Regions from separate parts of the Homo sapiens genome. Here region 2 is linked to region 1. Evidence: fine-mapped expression QTL. A gene starts in region 1. The other region holds a variant in brackets. All regions are shown on one strand. Distances are between the middles of the regions.

Region 1 (5,370 bases):
ACTTACCCTGAAATAAACTCTACCTTGAATACAGATCTTCAAGAAGCCCCAGAAATAAGTTTCCCCAGAAAGGCCGCTGGAGATAGGAGAGGAGAGGCTGTCTTTTATACTTCAGCTCCTGGAGACCTAGTCCAGGGTCCTAGAAGAGAGGTTTCCCTCCTAAAGGAAGACAGAAGGGGCAGCCTGGCTGTGTTAAGCCGTTCTTACATTGCTATAAAGGAATATATGAGACTGGGTAATTTGTAAGGGGGTAAAGCAAAGACATTTCAAAGAAGGAAGGATGGTAGGGAGGTACAAGCTGATCAGGCCCAAGAGACCCTTCCAACATCTCCATGCCATGGGCTCTGTTTGGGATGAATGACATCATGGATCCTGTTCTTTGCAAACAGAAAAGACGTTTTTTGGGATTCCCTGTGAGCGGCTGGGGTGACATGAAGCACACTCTAGGGCAAGCCCCAAAGCCCAGCACTTGGGGACTCTTTGGGCATCTCACTGTCCTGAGATCTCACTTCCTGATTTCCCTCAGACTCTTCCCTCCAGCATCCCTACCTATCCCTAGGCCAAGCAAACACTAAACACCACTGTGCCTCCCTGGTACCCAGTAGATGCCCCTTCTGCAAATCTGACCCTACACGAAGAAAGCCTCAAAACTATGACATACCTAGAGACATAAAGGATAGTCATGGGCATGCACAAGCCTCCCCATGAAGATGTCCGTTGCAGTGTTGTTTAGAAGTATGAAAAATGGAAACAAACTAAATGCTCAGAAATAGGGGACTGGTTAAAAAAATATGTGCAATACAACCATCTGATCCTATGCTAGGTAGCCACTAAAAGTGTGACATAGGAGAGGAGATATCAGTCAGCAAGCTCACTCCATTTAAGGACTCTTGTAGAGTTACACAGGTAAAAAGAAAGGAAAACAGGAAAGCTCAATATTCACAATGACTGGATTTTCTTTTCTTCTTTTTCCTTTTGTATTTTCCAAGTGCCCTACACTAATATATATTTGTGGATGGATACATAGACACACAGAGATTGGTAGGCACGCCGTCATAAGCCAGCTCCCTGAAACTACACCCAACACCACTGGAAAACAGTCCTGGTTCCAGTCTGAGGAGCAAGCCAGATTTGCCAGGCCAGTGATGCACAAATAGGGGAGTGGACGGGAATTAACTCTTTAGGGCTAGGACCTTCCGCAAGGACTCACTCAAAGTGTGCCACACACACTTATCCCTGGTCCCCCCACCCCCACCACAACACACACACACACAAACACACAGAGTCTTGCCAAAGGGGGCAGCTTACAGGCAAAACCACTCAACAACTAGAATATCCATCCTGGAAGGGTCAGCAGGTGTCCTCAGAGAGATCAAGGTTATACCGTGGGCACAGCCCTAGCTTGGGAGTTGTAGAGCCTCCAATCCTACCTCTTTGACCCTAGCCTATCCCCTCCTTTCTCTGATCCTTCATTTATTCATTCATAAAATAAATGCATGAGGTTGGACAAAGGGTCTCTCAGGTCCCCTTCCTCGGTTCTCTGAGAATTGTTTCCCTTTATTCTAGCCTCATCCCTTACTCAGAGCTGATGTCCCCGTGACAGCCCCAGCCTGCAGGAGGGCGGGGAGTGGGGGCGGGGGGGGGGCGGTAAATAGTGCAGGGAGCAGAGCCCAGAATGAACAGTTACCAGAGGAGGCTGGGAGATGTCCTCAAGCACCCAAGCCCTAGACCACGCAGCTTCCCCTGCCTGGCCCCAGGGAAGCCCAAGACGTGATGACTGGCAGGGCTGGGGTTTGTTTTCTCCACCGGAGCCTGCTCTGCCCCATCCTCCCTGCAAGGCCAGTCCCTGGCCAACTTTCCCTTCCACAACATCCCCATGGCTTCACTGCTTCCCCAAGGTTTAGCATCAACATGTTCAGCCCTTTGTCACCATGCTTTATTTTTGAGAACCACTTTCCCGCCAGTGACAAGCCTTTGGGTTTTGAAACGAACCCAGCTTTTGACTCCCCTTGCCTCCTAAGCCCCAGTTTCCTCATCAACAGTAGTGGTTCAGAGAGTGTTAGCAACAACACATTTCATCAATTCCTGCAGCAAATTCACTGAGTGCCCACTCTGTGCAGACCCCTGCAGCCCTACCCAGACGCTGCCCTCCTGGCGCTCCCAGGCAAGTGGCGGAGGTTAAATAAATAACTCCTCCACGCTGGCGAGCACCCCAACACAGTAGGGGTGCAATCATTGGGAGCAATATCCTAATGAGGACAGGGAGGCCTGAGAGATGGGCTGGGATTCGTCCAAGGCCCCAAAGCAGGGTGGGGACAGAGCAGGTCCTGGAAGCCTGGAACCCCGGCCTGAGCCAGGCATCCCCTCGGGGCCGGCTTCCACCTGCCAGGGCTGAGCCCTATGCCCTGACGTTTGGGCAGCGGGGAACGGGGGCACAGGGAGGGTGACGGGGTGAAGGAAACAGGCCTGCTGGTGGCTCCGAAGGAAGGTTTGGGCCAGGCCTAGCTGGAATCCCAAAACTCACCTGCCAGCAACCGCGAGCGGGAAGCCCTGCCAGGCTCGCCTGCCCCTGCCAGCGGCCCAGCCACGCTGGGTCCCCCTCTCCATCCCGCACTTTGCTCTTTGCCCGCGACAGGGGTCCCCTGCTCAAATGCCCAGCCTAGCCTCGGTCCAACCTGTCTGGCTGTCCTTCCCTGACACCTCGTTTGTCTACCCTTCTCTGCACGTGTCAGTGGCTCCCCGCTCGCGTCCGTGTGTCATTCCCTACACACGCCTGTGTGTCCTCTTCACACGTCTGACTGGAGCGTCGGCCTCCCGCATTTCCCGGCCTCCTCGCCGCCCTGCCCCGCCTGCTGCTGTGTGGGTGTCGGGCTGGCTGTGCGCAAAGGGGCGCGGCTCGGCCCTCCCCCGCACCCGCGCCCCCCGCCCCGCATCTCGGAGTGACCCGGGCCGCGGCGCCGCGGTGCTGAGGCCCGGGAGCCGCGCCGCCGCCGAGGGGGGCCGGGGCCGGTGACGGTGGCGTGGGCGGCGGCGCGGGGACGACGGGCGGCCGGGCGGGGCTGCGGCAGGGCAGGGCCAGGGCCAGGGCCGGGGCCTGGGAAGCCGCCGCCGCCGCTGCCTCGGCCCGGGATCGCGGGCGGCTGGTCGGCCCGGCTCGCCTGGCCCCGCCTGGCCCGCCCCGCCCCGCCCCTGCGCGCCCAGCAGGCCGAAGCGTAGCGGCGCGCCCCCCGCGACGCCCGAGCCCGAGCGCAGTGGCCTCCGAGCGGGAACCGGACTGGGAGCCGGAGCCGGGGCGGGAACCGGAGCTGGAGCCGAAGCTGGAGCCGGCACTGCGGCGCACGGAGCGGAGCGCTGCAGCCAAGCCGAGTAAGGGGCGTGGGGCTGGGCGGCGCGGGGGAGGGGCGGGCGGGGGGTCCCGGCCCCATTCCCCCGCGCTCTGCGGTGGTACCGGCGAACGACACACCCGGGGGCGCGCCGCGCGGAGCCTCGGTGCGCGGGGCGGGCGGATGCGCGGTCCGGAACGGAACCGCAGCGCGCTCGGAACGGAGCGGGATCCCGGGTCTCCCGCGGACCCTCGACCCCGGGCTGGCCACTGGGATCTGCGCGAGCCGAGGCTGACCCTGATCGCGCCCTCGGGCCTCGGGGAAGGGGAGGTATCCAGGTTTTCTGCCTGACTCGAGTCCCCGACGAGCATCAACCGCATTTGGGGAACCCAAGACAGCCTCCCCAGCAGCTTGCCCTCGGTTTCGGGGACCCCTGAACAACCCAACCAAGAAGGGAAAACTAGGGCGCACTCTCGGTCGGGGTGGGAGAGGAAAGGGGCTGGGGCTTCACGGAGTTTGGAGTTTGAACCCACCCGCACCCCTTTGAGCTAGGAAGTTTGACCCTTCGACGAGCAGGTCGCCTGGGGTATGCCCCTGTCTCCGTGCCTCTGTCTCAGCACCGAGCGTCGGAGAGAGAGCGCGCCCTCCGCACCTTCTCCCACTTTGGGACAGACTTTCCCTTGCGCTGTCAGAGGGACCCGAGGCTGAGTACGAGGCGAGGCGGCAGGCAGCTCAGGCTGGCTGCGCAGCGCTGAGTGGCACCGCCGCCGCTCCCCAGGGGCAGGGCCCACCCCACACCCGGCTGACTCTCGCTGCCCTTCCTCCTTCCCTATCGGGCTCTGCGGTCTGGAGGCTGGAGAGCGGTGAGGACCAGGGACTGCCCTGTCCATCTCGGGCGGGTGCCGGCGTGGGTGGCGGGGCGCAGGCTGGGAAAGGGAGGGCGCAAGTAACTGGTGTGAGAGGCAGGGGTTCAGGGATCCTTGCTCTTGAGCCACGATTTCCGATGAGCCCCTGCCGAGAGCATGCCGCTCTGGACTCACTCCTCAAACATAACTGCTCTGCTGGAACGAGAGACTTCACCACCCTGTGCCTCAGTTTCCTCATCTGAAAGTAAGCAGGAGTCTGTTGTGAGCGGGATGTTTAAGGGATTTGGAACCAGAAGGTGGGCTTGGCTGACTTCCTGGCTGTACAACCTTAAGCAAGACACAAACCTCTCTGAGCCTTAGTTTCCCCATCTGGAACATGGGGAAGGTGAGTTGGGAGGATTAAATGAGATGATGCTGGTGAGGGTATGTAGCCTGGTGCCTGGCACGCAGCCAGTGGCCAATTGTGGTGGGCTACAGGTGTCCTGAGGTGTCCAGCACCAGTAGATGCTGAGATTCAGTGCCTCTGAATCTGAAGTGGTGCTCCCAGCCCCCTCCAAGGAGGCCTTTGAATTCCCCAAGCTGTTGACATTTAATTGCAAAGCAAAACTTTCTCCTTAGGGCCCACCCTTTCTCAGACGCTCCCTCCTCCAAGGCTCTCTACCGCCCAGCCCAGTTCTCCCCTGCTACCTCCCATCTCTCTCCAGGGTGAAAAGGCTGCATCTGACTGTAAGGTGCACCCTTTTCCTCCTTGCCCTTAGCTGATGTCCGCTGCCCCAGAGAGGGGCACCCACCCATTGCTCGAGCTCCGTACAAGGGAATTTAACACCTCCCTCCACTCCCGGGTGGAGGATTGCTTTCCCTGAGGAGCCATCAGGCTGTCAGGTGGCTTGGACACACCGATGGTGACGGTTCAGACAGGCAGCAAGAAGCACCAGGGAGACAGCCTAGAGGTCTGAGGGGTCCCAGCCTTGATTCTTCGCAGACTATGATGTATTCGTCCAGGCAACTGGGCCATGAGGCACCAGAAATGAAGGATGTCGGGGAGGAAATGGAGCCAGTGATTGAGAGGTTCAAACTTCAGAGCAGGGTGTCCCCAGGAAGGGATTTGCTCCAGTCTGTGTGGCTGGGACCTTAGACCCAGAGCAGAGCAGGGCATAGGCCCAGGGGATAGGGGAGGATGC
Region 2 (5,370 bases), 76 kb after region 1:
TCCCTTTGAAAACTGGCACAAGACAGGGATGCCCTCTCTCACCACTCCTATTCAACATAGTGTTGGAAGCTCTGGCCAGGGCAATCAGGCAGGAGAAGGAAATAAAGGGTATTCAATTAGGAAAAGAGGAAGTCAAATTGTTCCTGTTTGCAGATGACATGATTGTATTTGTAGAAAACCCCATTGTCTCAGCCCAAAATCTCCTTAGGCTGATAGGCAACTTCAGCAAAGTCTCAGGATGCAAAGTCTCAGGATACAAAATCAATGTGCAAAAATCACAAGCATTCTTATACACCAATAATAGACAGAGAGCCAAATCATGAGTGAACTCCCATTCACAATTGCTTCAAAGAGAATAAAATACCTAGGAATCCAACTTACAAGGGACGTGAAGGACTTCTTCAAGGAGAACTACAAACCACTGCTCAATGAAATAAAAGAGGATAAAACAAATGGAAGAACATTCCATGCTCATGGGTAGGAAGAATCAATATCATGAAAATGGCCATACTGCCCAAGGTAATTTATAGATTCAATGCCATCCCCATCAAGCTACCAATGACTTTCTTCACAGAATTGGAAAAAACTACTTTAAAGTTCATATGGAACCAAAAAAGAGCCCACATTGCCAAGTCAATCCTAAGCCAAAAGAACAAAGCTGGAGGCATCACGCTACCTGACTTCAAACTATACTACAAGGCTACAGTAACCAAAACAGCATGGTACTGGTACCAAAACAGAGATATAGACCAACGGAACAGAGCAGAGCCCTCAGAAATATTGCCGCATATCTATAACCATCTGATCTTTGACAAACCTGATAAAAACAGGAAATGGGGAAAGGATTCCCTATTTAATAAATGGTGCTGGGAAAACTGGCTAGCCATATGTAGAAAGCTGAAACTGGATCCCTTCCTTACACCTTATACAAAAATTAATTCAAGATGGATTAAAGACTTAAATGTTAGACCTAAAACCATAAAAACACTAGAAGAAAACCTAGGCAATACCATTCAGGACATAGGCATGGGCAAGGACTTCATGTCTAAAACACCAAAAGCAATGGCAACCAAAGCCAAAATTGACAAACGGGATCTCATTAAACTAAAGAGCTTCTGCACAGCAAAAGAAACTACCATCAGAGTGAACAGACAACCTACAGAATGGGAGAAAATTTTTGCAATCTACTTATCTGACAAAGGGCTAATATCCAGAATCTACAATGAACTCAAACAAATTTACAAGAAAAAAAACAAACAACCCCATCAAAAAGTGGGCAAAGGATATAATAGACACTTCTCGAAAGAAGACATTTATGCAGCCAAAAGACACATGAAAAAAATGCTCATCATCACTGGCCATCAGAGAGATGCAAATCAAAACCACAATGAGATACCATCTCACACCAGTTAGAATGGTGATCATTAAAAAGTCAGGAAACAACAGGTGCTGGAGAGGATGTGGAGAAATAGGAACACTTTTACACTGTTGGTGGGACTGTAAACAAGTTCAACCGCTGTGGTAGTCAGTGTGGCGATTCCTCAGGGATCTAGAACTAGAAATACCATTTGACCCAGCAATCCCATTACTGGATATATACCCAAAGGATTATAAATCATGCTGCTATAAAGACACATGCACATGTATGTTTATTGCAGCATTATTCACAATAGCAAAGACTTGGAACCAAGCCAAATGTCCAACAATGATAGACTGGATTAAGAAAATGTGGCACATACACACCATGGAACACTATGCAGCCATAAAAAATGACGAGTTCATGTCCTTTGTAGGGACATGGATGAAGCCGGAAACCATCATTCTCAGCAAACTATCGCAAGGACAAAAAACCAAACACCACATGTTCTCACTCATAGGTGGGAACTGAACAATGAGAACACATGGACACAGGAACGGGAACATCACACACTGGGGCCTGTTGTGGGGTGGGGGGACGGGGGAAGGATAGCATTGGGAGATATACCTAATGTTAAATGACGAGTTAATGGGTGCAGGACACCAAGATGGCATATGTATACATATGTAACTAACCTGCACGTTGTGCACATGTACCCTAAAACTTAAAGTATAATTTAAAAAAAAAATTAAAATTAGCCAGCCATGTAGTCCCAGCTACTCAGGAGGCTGAGATGGGAGGACTGATTGAGCCCAGGAGCTCAAGGCTGCAGTGAGCCGTGATTACACCACTGCACTCCAGCCTGGGTGACAGAGTGAGACCCTGTCTCTTAAAATAAATAAATGGAAAAAAAAAAGAACAGGCTGATCTGGAGGCAGAGCAGGTCAGCAATCTCAGGAGGATGAGGCAAGAGGTTGCGTCAGCTTGGAACCATGACAGCCACTCCAAGGCATATCCCCCAGGGCACCTGACCTGCAGCAAAGGAACCTGGGAGAGCAACTTAGGCCAAGGATTCCAGGGGCAGGAAAGGCGAGCTAATTATTTTTTTTTTATTCATTCTTTTCTGACCATTAACATAATAAGCATGCTTATTCCAAACCAAAACAGAACTTTTGCTCTCTCCACTAAGCCTGCCGCTCCCGCATTCCCCATCTGGGTAAATGAGTCCACCATCCACTCACTCACTCCAATCCAATGCAGACATCACCCTTGACCAACATATATCTCTCTCTCCTCTCTCTTTCCTCCTCCCCCCGCTCTCTCTCTCTATCACATCCTTCATCCAATTCCTAGCTCCTCTCTTTCACAACAGAGTCTGAATCCAACCCCTTCCCCCCTCCTTCCACAGTAACCAAATTCACCATCCTCTCTCACTCACGTCCCTGGAGGCTGCCAGCCTTCTGCAGCCTGTGCTCCACCCGAATGCTGGAGGATTCCGTTAAACCTACATTAGGGCTGTGCGTGGTGGCTCATGCCTGTAATTCCAGCACTTTGGAAAGCTGAGGTGGGAGGACTGCTTGAGTCCAGGAGTTTGGGACCAGCCT[G/C]GGCAACACAGAAAGACCCCGTCTCTATATATTTAAAAAATAAAATAAAATAGAAAATGTTAAAAAAAACAAAACAAAACAAAAAAAAACCACCTACATTTGATCATGATTCTCATGTGTTCAGTTCCCTCCAGGGGTGCCCGAGGCCATATCAAGTCCCAGGCTCAGCCCCTCACTTTCCCTCTGAACTCATCTCAGGTCCCTTCCCCATTGTCCGCTGTAGCCAGAGCCACCCTGGCTTCTGCAAGGTTCTGGAACATGCTGAGCCTGGCCCTATTCCCAGCCTCTGCACAGACTGTTCCCTCTGCTCTGTCTCCCTACCCTACCCTGCCATGTTCTCTTCCTTGTTATTCACATCTCCCCTTAAATGTCACCTTCTCAGAGAGGCCCCCTCTGACCATCTATCACATCAGCTTAATTTTCTGCACAAAGATTTTAATTCATGTATTCATTTTCCATTTCCCCCCATTAGAAGATAAGCTCCATGAGAGATAAACTTCATCTTGTCTCATTCACCGTTATTTCCAAGGATCCACCATATTAAACCATCAAATGAGTAGAAAACTTAGAAAGTACAGATGAATATGAAAACGAAAGCAAACCTTACCATAATTTCCACCATTCAGCGATACCCAATGTCACCACATTCCTGCAATTCCTCCCAGTCTTTTTTCTATATACGCATATATTAAACATTTGGGATTGTAATATTTACAGTGTTGTGCTCTGCCTTTATTTCCCATGAAGGGCGTTATTCTAACTAATTTTAGATGGAGAGAAAAGTTGCAAAATAGTACAAAGAACTCCTTTCCACTCCTGGCCCTGCTTCTCCTAAAGTTGACATCTTACGTAACCATAGTATAATGATCAAGAACAGGAAATTAATATTGATACAATGTTCTTAACTATACTACAAACCTTATTTAAGTTTCCCCAGTGTTCCATTAATATCCTTTCTCTATTCCAGGAGCATATACAGGATCCCACATTGCACTGAAGTTGACATCTTATGTAACCATAATATAATGATCAAGAACAGGAAATTAATATTGATACAATGTTATTAACGATACTACACATATTATTTAAGTTTCCTAGTGTTCTATTAAAATCCTTTCTCTATTCCAGGAGCCCATCCAGGATCCCACATTGCATTTGTATATTTTCCTTTGTCTCCTCCAGTCTGTAATAGTTCTTGTTTTTTCCTTGTCTAACACGATCTTGATGCTTTTAAAGAGTTTTTTCCAATCAGTTATTTTGTTGAATGTCCCTCCATTTGGGTTTGTCTGGTGCTTTCTTAATACTGGAGTCAAGTATGCATTTCTGGCAAGGATACCACACCAAAAAAACAAATGATGCTGCCAGGCATGATGGCTCACACTGTAATCCCAGCACTTTCAGAGGCCAAGGCAGGCAGATCACTTGAGCTCAGGAGTTCAAGTCCAGCCTGGGCAACATGACAAAAGCCCTATTCTACAAAAAATACAAAAAATGGCCGGGCGCGGTGGCTCACGCCTGTAATCCCAGCACTTTGGGAGGCCGAGGCGGGCGGATCACGAGGTCAGGAGATCGAGACCATCCCGGCTAAAACGGTGAAACCCCGTCTCTACTAAAAATACAAAAAAATTAGCCGGGCGTAGTGGCGGGCGCCTGTAGTCCCAGCTACTTGGGAGGCTGAGGCAGGAGAATGGCGTGAACCCGGGAGGCGGAGCTTGCAGTGAGCCGAGATCCCGCCACTGCACTCCAGCCTGGGTGACAGAGCGAGACTCCGTCTCAAAAAAAAAAAAAAAAAAAAAAAAAAAAATTAGCCAGCCTGGTGGCACACACCTGTAGTCCCAGCTCCCCGGGAAGCTGAGGAGGATCACCTGAGCCCAGGAGGTCGAGGCTGCAGTGAGCTGTGATTGCGCCACTGCATTCCAGCCTGGGTGACAGAGTGAGACCCTGTCTCAAAAAAAAAAAAAAAAAAAAAAAAGATGCTGTCCTCAGTGCATCTTTGTAAAGGCTTCATGATGTCACTACGTCTTATTACCTTAATCACTTATTAAGCTGGTTTCTATGGGGTTTCCATCTCCACTGTCAAATTAGTTAATTTCTTTCCCTTTTTACTTGATAAGTATATTAGGGGAAATAGAAACTATGCAAATCTTGTTTTTCCTCAAACTTCTGTCCACTAATTTTAGTATCAACAGGTAAATCTTGTCTGTGATTTTATATATATATATATATATATTTTTTTTTTTTTTTTTTTTTTTTTTTTTTCCCTAGACGGAGTCTCCCTCTGTCACCTAGGCTGGAGTGCAGTGGCACGATCTCGGCTGACTGCAAGCTCCGCCTCCTGTGTTCACGCCATTTTCCTGCCTCAGCCTCCAGAGTAGCTGGGACTACAGGCGCCCGCCACCATGCCCAGCT

Evidence for each region. PIP is the estimated chance that this variant, and not a neighbour inherited with it, causes the effect. A credible set is the group of variants that fine-mapping cannot tell apart.
Region 2: its variant is the best candidate, but not a certain one, in a credible set for the expression of BEAN1 in tibial artery (GTEx, PIP 0.74).

Annotation. Positions count from the first base shown.
Region 1 is chr16:66,424,066-66,429,435 of GRCh38, forward strand. It overlaps BEAN1 (brain expressed associated with NEDD4 1), which reads left to right and starts at 3,230. Exons shown (of 5, transcript NM_001178020.3): 1 at 3,230-3,366. RefSeq lists an enhancer at 4,058-4,658.
Region 2 is chr16:66,500,023-66,505,392 of GRCh38, forward strand. No RefSeq gene overlaps it. Among named protein-coding and RNA genes, the nearest start is that of BEAN1-AS1, 26 kb to the left of the region's middle. The variant G/C (reference allele first, on the strand shown) is at 2,962.